2 separate regions of the Homo sapiens genome follow, and region 2 is linked to region 1. The links come from fine-mapping of genetic effects on gene expression. A gene starts in region 1. The other region holds a variant in brackets. All regions are shown on one strand. Distances are from middle to middle. Region 1 holds the start of TESC (tescalcin). Region 2 overlaps TESC (tescalcin).

Region 1 (5,369 bases):
TGCCCTTCTCCTTGTCCCAGGGCTTTTGTCCCCACCAGAGCAACTGTGCCAAGCAGGAGGGGCTGATGTCCAGAGAATGCCACTTCCTATCCCCCACATCAGACAGTTCCATCATTTAATCCTTGACTAGTTTAATATAATAAAATTCCAGGAACTGACATTTTAAGTTGGAATAAAATTGCTCCCAGCAGCTGTACGTAATGGGCTGGCTCAGCGGCTCAGAACTCCCAGGGGTATTGGGGATCCTTTCCTGATCCCAGAGGCCTGCCTGTTTCCAGAATCCTTTAAACCAAAATGCAGTCCCTAGGTCAGCTGTCCTGCCGGCTCAGATCAGCTGATGACCCACAGCCAACATCTTTCCACCTTGATCAGGTCTTGCACTGCCCTCTGGAGAGTGCTTTAAAATGCAGATTGCAGGTGCTGCCTTAGCTCTACGAGTGCAGACAGGCAGTGGAAGAGGAAGCTGGATTTTCCATTTTAGAGACAGGGTCTCGTTCTGTTGCCTGGGCTGGAGTGCAGTGGTGCAATCAGAGCTCACTGCAGCCTCTAACTCCTGAGCTCAAGCGATCCTTCTGCCTCATCCTCCCAAGTAGCTGGGACTTCAGACGCACACCATTGTGCCCAGCTCATTTTTAAAAAGTTTTAATTGCTGGTAGAGCTGGGGTCTTGCTATGTTGCCCAGGCTGGTCTCAAACTCCTGGGCTCAATCCTCCTGTCTCAGCCTCCCAAAGTGGTGAGATTACAGACATGAGCCACTGCACCTGGCCAAAAGCTGGATTTGCAACCAGGAAGGGGCTGATTCTGATGCTCTAGGAGGTTTTAGGACCAACTCCCACCCTCTACCTCGGGCTCTGAAAGTCACCTCCTGCCCCTGGAAAGGGCTGTGACCCTTGGCTTGAGCCTGTAGTCTGCAGGAATGAACAGCAGTTCTCAGCAGCCCCCTTCCCAGCAGCCTGTGAAACTGATGGAGGTAGGTCCACCCGAGTCCCCTCTGTGGGCACCGAAAAACTCCTGCCCCCTACCCTGTCCCCCTTCCTCCCCAACATTTATCATCGAGACTAACGTTCAGAACAGACCTGATACCTGACGGTCATTGATGGTGGTGTCACTAAGCACTGCAGAGCCTTCAGGAGAGCCTTGACCTTGATGTTCTGCCCTGGCTGTGTGCCTCTCCAGGGGACAAGATTCCATAGCGCCCACCAGCCTCTGTGGCCATGTGCTGTGTCCACGCCAGGCCCTCTGGTGGACATCTCATTAACTTATCCTTATTTTAAGGAGGAGGAATCACATTACACAGGCAACAGCATCGGCCCCAGTCACCCCAACTGGATGGAGAGCCAACCCCTCAAGCCATCTTAACCCAGAACTTCCCTAATGGGCATGGGGACCACCGGCATTGCCTTCTCTCCAGCAGTTTGTCCCAAATGCAGCCTCCTGGGCCCACTTCTGCAGTTGTTTTTTTGTTTGTTTGTTTTTTGAGACAGAGTCTTGCTCTGTCGCCCAGGCTGGAGTGCAGTGGCAAGATCTCAGCTCACTGCAACCTCTGCCTCCCAGGTGCAAGTGATTCTCCTGCCTCAGCCTCCGGAGTAGCTGGGATTACAGGCATGTGCCACCGCGCCTGGCTAATTTTTGTGTTTTTAGTAGAGACGGGGTTTCACCATGTTGGCCAGGCTGGTCTCGAACTCATGAGCTCAAGTGATCCGCCCGCCTTGGCCTCCCAAAGTGCTGGGATTACAGGCGTGAGCCATGCGCCCAGCCCGCTCCTGCAGTTTGAGGTGCCTCTCAGCCACCGGGCTGTGCAGGGCCCACACGGGCCGCCACGTGGGTGTGTTCACCTCAGAAGGTGCTGGGGCTTTCCTGGAAAAAACCAAAGCGCATGGTGCATTTTCAAATAGGATTATTATTACTGTTGTTCTCCATAGAGCTATTTCATGCTCGCTGACTTCCTTGACTATCTCAGTGGAGTTTCCCTCCTAAGATCTGGAGGATGTAAGGTGGGATGGGTTGGGAGTGGGCATAGCACCTCCCAGGGGTCCCACCCCTCCTACCCACGCCCCCAAATTTGCTCACACCTGCTTCCTTCCAGATCCAGCAGGTGTGCGGAAGGGACGAGGTACGTGAGCACTGCTGCACGAACGGGGACTCCAGAGCGGTGGGCTCCGGGGTCCCCTTCCCGGCGGTTTCCGGGCCGGGGCGGGGCGGGGCGCTCCCCTAGCCGCGCAGTGCGCGAAACCGGCGTGCGCTAGGACCGCGGCGCGCCGCCCTCCGCCGTTATATGAGGCCCCGCTCCGGCCCCACGCGGAACCCGCGGCTCCGAGCCTTCGCCGGCGTCCCGACCCGAGGCCGGACCCGAGGCCAGTCCCGCCGCTGCGCAGCCGAAGCCAGTGCGGGGCCTGAGAGGGACGCGCGCCCCGGGGCCCCCGCCGCGGGCACCATGGGCGCTGCCCACTCCGCGTCTGAGGAGGTGCGGGAGCTCGAGGGCAAGACCGGCTGTGAGTACCCGCGGGGGGCGGCGCGGGGACCGGGGCGGGACCTCCGAACGGCCACTGTTGGGGACCCCGGCCCGCCGCCGCGCTGTGTGACCTTGGGCCAGTGGCGGGCCCTCTCTGCGCCTCAGTCTCCTCCTCTTTCAAATGGGTCCCCGCTGGCCACCTCGCGGGCTGCGGCGAGGAGCTCCGCGGCGATGCTCAGTGCCGCAGCCGCTCAGCTTCGGACTGGCCCGGGAACTCCCTGGCCGGGGGACTGCGGACCGGGGAGGGAGCGGGGCCCAGGCTTCCCAAGCGCAGGGCAGGTGCCTCAGGCCGGGCGGGCAAGTCCCTCAGGCACCCCCGCTGGCGCGCGCGCCCCACACCTGAGAGTCGTTTGCATTCGTGAGCGCGAGAGCGGAAAGTTTTGAAGTCGGCGGACCTGGGTGGGAACAGGTCTCCGACGCTCCCCGGCCGGGTGACCTTAGTCGGGAGAGCCGGCGCCCGGCGCCTGCTTTCGTCCTCGCATCTGTAAAATGGGTTCAGGCAGCCTCATCCCCGCGGGTGGCTGGGAGACTTAGCGAGGCAGCGGCCGCAGAGCACTTTGCCCGGAGCCCAGCGTCCTCCCCTGAGTTCGCTGAGTCTCCCGGGACCAGCAAAGGCTGCGCGCCCCGCATCGGCCCGGAGGCGGGGAGCCCTGGGAGGCCTGGCCGAGCTGCCCGCAGGGAAATGGCGGAGAAAGCGCTTCTCTGCCCGAGTTCAGCCGGGCTGGGGACTTGGCCCTGGGTCCTGAACTCGGCATGGCCAGTTCTGCCTCTGGCTGTGGACCAGGGTGTGGACTGGAGACCGCGGGGGCCAGGTGTGTGGGCAAACCGGCTTTGGCGAGCGACAGACCGGCTGTGAACCCTGCCAGCTGCACTTCCTGGCTGTGTGACCTTGGGCTAGTCACTTTACCTCTCTGATTCTCAGCTTTCCTTCTCTGTTGTAAGAGTTCTCCTAGTACCTGGTAGACGCTCAGGAAATGGGAGCTGCAGATATTTTGGGAAAGAGCTAGCTCCTGGCACCTGCTTCAAGTGCAGAGAACCAGCGTCCAGTATTGATCACCAAGAGAGGGTGGCCCAGCTGTTTGTGTGTCAGCTGAAAAGCAACCCCTCTTGACCCCCAATCTAAATACCCCTTTCCAGGAGAACTGGATGAAAATTGCAGAAAACCATTAATAACTGGTGTGTGTATGCACGCACTTATACGTCTATATCTGTATCTCTGTGTGTGTAGAGATATAGAAATATCCAACTAAAGAAGTAAAAGGTGTGGCTCAGCATATATAATATGGTACCCTTTTTTCTGTTTTTTAAAAAAGGATCCTTTGAGCTGGAGCCGCAAAGTAAAAAGAAATAGAAAATGTAAAAAGAGGGGAAAATAAGAGTATACATTTGTAATTGCTATATTTGCAGACTGGAAGAATCCACCAGAAAGTACGAATGGATGCTTGGTGGGGGTTGCGGGGGGAGTGGAAGGGATGAAGGGAGAGTGAGCTTTTTCTCCGTAAACGTTTTTATATGTTCATTTTGAACTATGTTGGATATTTTACTTACTCAAAAAGTTTTATGCACTTCAATCCGAAGACTAATATGAGAGAGAAAGGAGGGATTCCTCTAGCTCTTACTTGCTTGGGTCTCCTCTGCTTTTATTATTTCTCATGTGCCCTCTCCTCGCCTCCCACTGCTTTGAATCTGGATGGGTGTCGATGGGCATTCTCTGTGGCTGGGATCCCCGTTGGAAGGGTGGGCTCTCCGGCAGCCCACGGGGCACTCGGGAATTCCACCTGGTTGTGGGTTTGACAGGGAGGAGGGGCTGCAGAGCATGCTGGGAGTCTTGTCAGTTTCCTGGGTCCAGCCTCCCACTGGGATGACAGATGCTGTGTTCCTGCTCTGTAACCTTCCTAGATGTAGCTGCAGCGGCTTCCCTTCTTGCTGCCCAGAGCTCAGACTTCATAACCCAAGGGAGATGGAGAGGGTCGGAGAGGAGGTTCTGAGGTTAGACTAGAGTAGGCAGGTGGAACTTTAGGTAGGTGGAAAGTTGCCCCCAGTCCTCCGAAAGGGACTGCGTAATTCGGTCACTTTTGCCCACTTAGCAAATATTTATAGACCAGGGGCTGGGGATTTAGAGATGACTCGGAGAGGCTGCTGTTCCTGGAGGGGGACACACAGTAAACAAAACGCCCGACAGGTGTTAAACTGTGAACGAGGCATAGCAGGGTGGCATGAGAATGGAGCTTTAGGGTGGATCCGGAGGTCCTCCCTGAGGAGGTGATAATGGAACAGAAATCCAAGTAAGAATGAGCCAGGGGTGTGCAAATCAGTGGAAAGGGCATCTCGGGCCGAGGGGACGTCGAATGCAGAGGCCCTGTGGCAGGGACAAGCCAGCAACAGTAAATAAGAATGCATGAGATGAGGACACAGCTGTCGTCAGGGCTCAGGCTGTGGCAGGAGCCTGGCTTCAGGGGCCTTGCCAGGTACCTTGGGCAAGTCACTTATGCTCTCTGAGCCTCAGTTTTATCTACTATAAAATGGGCATAGTCATAGTACCTCCCTTGAAGTTGTTGGGAAGGATTGAGTTAATATACATGAAGTAGTTAGACCAAACACATGTACATGGTTTGTTATTGACCATGCTTTAAACACTCTTGTATGTCCTGGTCGCTCCGAGCCATAGCTGAGAGTTGAGTCTTGGTCCCACCTCTCTGAGCTACATGACCTTGGGCAAGTCATCTTACTTCTCTGAGCCTCAGTACCCCCACCTGGATCCTGAAGTCATTGTGTGGATTTGATAAGGTTACGTGCGAGACGATCGGCTTGGCATGGGAACGTCAGCTCCCAGAGACCCAGTGGGTCAGGCAGGGCC
Region 2 (5,369 bases), 35 kb after region 1:
CCCGGGAGGCGGAGCTTGCAGTGAGCCAAGATAGCGCCACTGCACTCCAGCCTGGGCAACACAGTGAGACTCCGTCTCAAAAAAAAAAAAAAAATTAGCCATTCATGGTGGCGGGTGCCTGTAGTCCCAGCTACTCAGAAGGCTGAGGCAAGAACATCTGTTGAACCCAGGAGGTGAAGGCTGCAGTGAGCCAAAATCGCACCACTGTACTCCAGCCTGGGCGATAGAGTGAAGCCCTGCCCCAAAAAAAAAAAAAAAAAAAAAAAAGCTAAAGGAAGGAAACAGGGCAGACAGCCATCCCCTGGAACCCTAGGGAGGAGAGGGTCCTTGGGGTAGGTGGTCATGGAAGGTGCCACTGAGGAGGCCACATCTGGGCTGAGACCAGGAGAGAAGGAGCCGGTGTGTGAAGAGAAGAGGGAGGGGAGCTCTAGGCAGAAGGCCCAGCACATGAGGAGAATTGGAGAGTTGGGTGCAGATCACAGAGGGTTTGCCTTTGCCCTAGTGATGACTTGGGTTTCCTTTTGTCCTTGAAATAAAATGCACAGATGTGGCCTGAAACACCAGCTGTATGTTAGCTCCTACTTTTTTGTTGTTGTTTTGCTCTGTTGCCCAAGCTGAAGTGTGGTGGTTCGATCTCAGCTCACTGCAGCCTCAACCACCCAGGCTCAAGCGATCCTCCTGCCTCAGCCTCCCAGAACTTACAGGCATGTACCACCATACCCGGCTAATTTTTGTATTTTTTGTAGAGATGGGGTCTTGCCATGTTGCCAAGGCTGGTCTTGAACTCCTGGGCTCAAGGAGTCCTCTCACCTCAGCCTCCCAAAGTGCTGAAATTATAGGTGTGAGCCACTGTGCCCGGCCAGCTCCTACATCTGTATGTCCTCCCAGGACCTCTCCCCTGAGCTCCTGACTCATGTAGCAACTGCCCATCCACTTAATATCCAATAAGACATGCCGCTTAACATGCCCCTTTCAAAGCAAGCACCTCCTCATCCCTCCCAGAGGTCCCCCGTTCCTCTGTGGTGAACGGCAGCCTCACAGTTCCCTGCAGTGGTCACCTTTGATTCCTCCCTTTGTCTCAGCCCTGCTTCCAGTTCATCAGCAAACACTGCCATTTCTACCTCCCAAGGAGCCCAGGATTTGCTACTTCTCTCCCCTTCTTCCTCTGCTCCCCCAGCCCCTGCCCTCATCCAGCTGCCATGGTCTCTGGCCTGGGCTACCCCAACAGCCTCCTCCCTGGTTCCCCTGTGTCTGTCTTCACTGTCCATCCACCATCCAGGCTCACGGTACCATGTGGGAGGGTCCTATGAGACTGTCTCTTCTCTGCTGAAGATGTTCTGTCTCACCCATTGGGAGTCAGAGCCTCCGCTGAGGCCTCTCAGTGTCCTTCTGGCCCCTGCACGGTTGGGCCCCTGCCACACCCATCTCCAATTATTTTTGCCCAAGTTACATGAACATTCTTTGTTCCCCACCCCAGGGCTCTAGCTCATGCTGTTCCTTCTTCTTAGAATGCTTTTCCCCTAGAGCAGGGTTTTTGAGCCTGGGCTCTGGGGCTGGATGATTCTTCACTGGGGGTTGTCCTGGGCACTGTGGGGTGCTGAGCAGCATCCCTGGCCTCCACCCACTAGATGCTGGTAGCACCCTCCCCACCAGCTGGACACATGGGAGTGGAGAACCTCCCCTCCTTCAGGTCTCTGCTCAAATGTCACTTTTTTCCCTGTGGCCTTTCTGTGGTCAACCTCATTTAAACTTGTACCGGTCTCCTGTGGTCCCCTCCCTTTCTCTGCTGAATTTCTCTGCAAAGTACTCATCACTCCCTGAGATACTCTATTTCCCATCTTTTTTGTGCTCTCCTAGATTCCCCGTAAGGGATCGTGTCTGTCTTTACCTCTGCAGCTGGCACCTAGAACAGTGCCTGGCTCCTTGAAGGGGCTCGAATGCTTGTCGCTGAGTTGCTTTCACTGTAAGAAGTCAATTCCAGGTGTTGGGGAAAGTGGGGGACTGACATGGGGCAGGGACAGGGATGAGAAGGTGTTTGCCTGGGGGAGTGGTCTTGGCGACGTTGTCCAGCTTTTCAAAGAGGCATTTGCCAGGAGCAAAAAGGACCAGGCCTTTCTTGCCAGAATCTTCTGTGCAAAAATGTGGATAGGAGAATTGCCTAGCACATTTGCACAATTCCAGGTGCTTTGAAACATTGAGAGATTAAGAGGCCAGCAGTTCTCACGCATTCATGTGTACGTGAATGCCCTGGGGACTGCGTTAAAATGCAGGTTCTGTAATGCCAGCACTTTGGGAGGCCAAGGCGGGAGGATCACTTGAGCCCAGGCGTTCAGGACTAGCTTGGGAAATATAGTGAGACCCTGTCTTTACCAAAAATAAATTGGGTGTGGTGGTACACACCTGTAGTCCCAGCTGCTCAGGAGGCTGAGGAGGGAGGATCACTTGAGCCCAGGAGTTCAAGGCTGCAGTGAGCCATGAATGCACTACTGTATTAATGCAGGTTTTGATTCAGTAGGTCTGGAGTAGGGAGAGATGGTGCATCTCTAATAAGCTCCAGGTGATGCAGATGCTGCTGGCCCAGAAACCACACTTTGAGTATCTTGGCTACTGGGAAGACATGTGCTGAGTGACATGCAGTCTCTGCCTTGAAGAGTCTCCATGGGGCCTCAGCTTCCCCACTGTGGGGGACACCACATGCTGAACAGTGAGTGCAGGAAGGGGAATCAGAGGGGCACTGGGCAGGCAGTGCAGGAAGGGGAACTCAGAGGGACATTGGGCAGGCAGCCCGGCAAAGTGGCCTCCCTCAGTGCAGGGAGCCCTGGAGCGGTGGAAGTTCCGGCCTGAGAATCTGGGGCCTGGCTGCACCCTCACCTTGGAGGTCGGTTAGCCTTGTGGTGGTTGGTGGGGGTTGGGGAGCTCCATGCTCAGTACCCCTAGAGAGAACTTTGCAACTGAGCTGGGCTCCGAAAGCCACCGGAAACCAACCCACACCACGAGGCTTGAGGAAGAGCCCAGCACAGTCCTCGGTGGTTTTTTGAGCCTGGTCCTTCCCTTCTTGTTGGCCTGACGCTTGTCCTGCCCTCTTCCTGGGTCCCAGATGGGGCCTCTTGGGCTGAGGGCTGGGGGCTGGGTGAGAGCAGATGCCTCGCTCTTTCTCTCTTTAACGTAAAAATGC[G/A]CAACTGGAAGGAAGGAAGTGGTGAGAGTGAGGAAGCGCAAGATGGTTCGAGCCAGCCTGGAGGCAGAGCTGGAGTCCCGCGCCAACTCTAGCTGTGTGACTGGGGCTTAGTCTCTTTGCCTCTCTGGGCCTTGTGTTCTGGTCTGTAAAATAGGATCATCATTGTTGCCACTCATGATTATGTGGGGGTGATTAAGTGTTGCAGTGCTTAGCACAGCTTGATGTCACGCGAGCCCTTCATGACTCCAGGGGGACATTCTGAAGCCCCGAGGGCTCAAGCTCTCCCGCAGGAGGCCTGGAAGGTGTGTGGCCCTGGAGCCCTCCTGGGCAATCCCCGCTACCCCTGATGGTCACTGGGGCAACACCACTGGCCATGAGAATCAGCTCTGGCTGAGGGCAGTGACCTGCCGTCAGCCCTGGGCTCTGAGGTGAGGCAGAGCCTGTTCCCATGGCTGCAGCCTGGGCTGCGACACCTTTAGAAAAGCCGGTTCATCCAGCCCGGCGGGGACCTAGGGAGGAAGGAAAACAAAACTGACACGAGTATTGATGGAGCATGAAACTGATGAAATGAAAAGGTTAGCCTGTCCTAAGCGCTGGACTCAAGGCCGGTGCTCTCCTTGTTGAAAAGGGACATTGGCAGGTTTTAGGGAAAGTCCCTGAAGGCCAGGCACCAACCACCATGCCACTGCCTGGGTCCGCCAGTATCATTCTTAACAATGAGAAGTGGCTTCATCTCTCTGCCTCAGTTTCCTCATCTTTAAAATGGGCACAGGCCGGGTGCAGTGGCTCACACCTGTAATCCCAGCACTTTGGGAGGCTGAGGAGGGCAGATCACCTGAGGTCACGAGTTCGAGACCAGCCTGGCCAACATGGTGAAACCCCATCTCTACTAAAAATACAAAAATTAGCTGGGCATGGTGGCAGGTACCTGTAATCCCAGCTACTCGGGTGGCTGAGGTACAAGAATCACTTGAACCCAGGAGGTGGAGGTTGCAGTGAGCAGAGATCACGCCACTGTGCTCCAGCCTGGGCGGCAGAGTGAGACTCCGTCTCAAAAAAAAAAAATTAAGAAAATAAAATGGGCATAAGTACCTACTTTATAGGGTTGTTGTGAACCCTATGTAATAATGTAAAGCTCTTAGAATAGTTCCTTCCATTTTGAGGGTACGTAGGTTAGCTGCTGTTACATTATTATTATTACTACTATTAATACTGCTGCAGCGATTACTGTTACTGCTGCTGCCGTTATTACTGTTATTATTTTAAAATTAAGAGCTCATCCTGTGTCAGGCAGCCTACTCAGCATCTTATGTGGATTTATCTCATTTGATCATCTCATTAGCCCCATCATGTTACCTGGATATTCCTATGATCCCCATTTTACATATGAGAAATCACGGCTTGAAGACATGCTGTGATTACTCAAGACCATGTGCCTGGTAAGGGGCAGAGCCTGGGCCAGCACCCCTCTCCCCACCTTGTGTTTGACCCTGAACCATCCCCTTTGATATGGGAAGGATTAGGTCTGCACCCATCTCACAGATGAGGAAACTGAGGCTCCAAGAGTCAGGCACCAGTGGTGAGGGGGAGGTGAGAGTCAGGTGTGGATGTAGCAGGTGCCTATGGAGAGAGAGAGAGAGAGCAGAGGCAGCGGGCTTCAGAGCCATTTACACACCCACTGGGGGTTGTGAAGCCAGCACCTGGGGACACTGTGTCCCCAGCTCAATTCCTAGCAGGTCAAGCATGTCTTGTTGCTGCTGGTTGGGGACAGGCCTCTTGTGTTGAGTTAATTTCTTCTCCAGGCACATGGGTCAGGCTCTTCTAGGTGGTTTCTCCCCCACCTCTCCTCCCTCTCTCCTGGGACATTGGGGTCTGCTCTCCTTCCAGGGTCTGGACACCTGGGCCCTGGGGAAGGCACCTGGGGAAGGGCAGTGCCTCAGGATGGGCCAGACAAAGAGGGAAGCCCTGCGTGCAGCCATCTTCATTATTCGCTTCATTATTCGCTCAGCAAACCATTTATTGACCACCTTGCCAAGCCCAGCAGTGCAAGGCACTGAGGACGGGGTGCTGTGGACATCACAGGGTCCCCATCCTGCAAGGTGCCATCTGTGGTGCACTCCCAGTTCACCAGACACCGTGCTGAGCATGTTGCAGACTTTATCTCCTCTAAACTGTACGGCAACCCTGTGAGGTT

What was found. PIP is the estimated chance that this variant, and not a neighbour inherited with it, causes the effect.
Region 2: its variant is fine-mapped to the expression of TESC in blood mononuclear cells (TOPMed, PIP above 0.99).

What each region holds. Positions count from the first base shown.
Region 1 is chr12:117,096,348-117,101,716 of GRCh38, reverse strand. TESC (tescalcin) reads left to right here and starts at 2,301. Exons shown (of 8, transcript NM_017899.4): 1 at 2,301-2,492. The coding sequence starts at 2,435. TESC-AS1 (TESC antisense RNA 1) reads right to left here and starts at 2,250. Exons shown (of 3, transcript NR_120464.1): 1 at 2,073-2,250; 2 at 1,077-1,264. RefSeq lists silencers at 1,085-1,302, 2,169-2,307, 2,046-2,565, 2,626-2,735, 2,806-2,905.
Region 2 is chr12:117,061,099-117,066,467 of GRCh38, reverse strand. All of the region lies in intron 2 of TESC (tescalcin), which reads left to right. Among named protein-coding and RNA genes, the nearest start is that of TESC, 36 kb to the left of the region's middle. RefSeq lists enhancers at 2,502-3,278, 3,279-4,055. The variant G/A (reference allele first, on the strand shown) is at 3,176.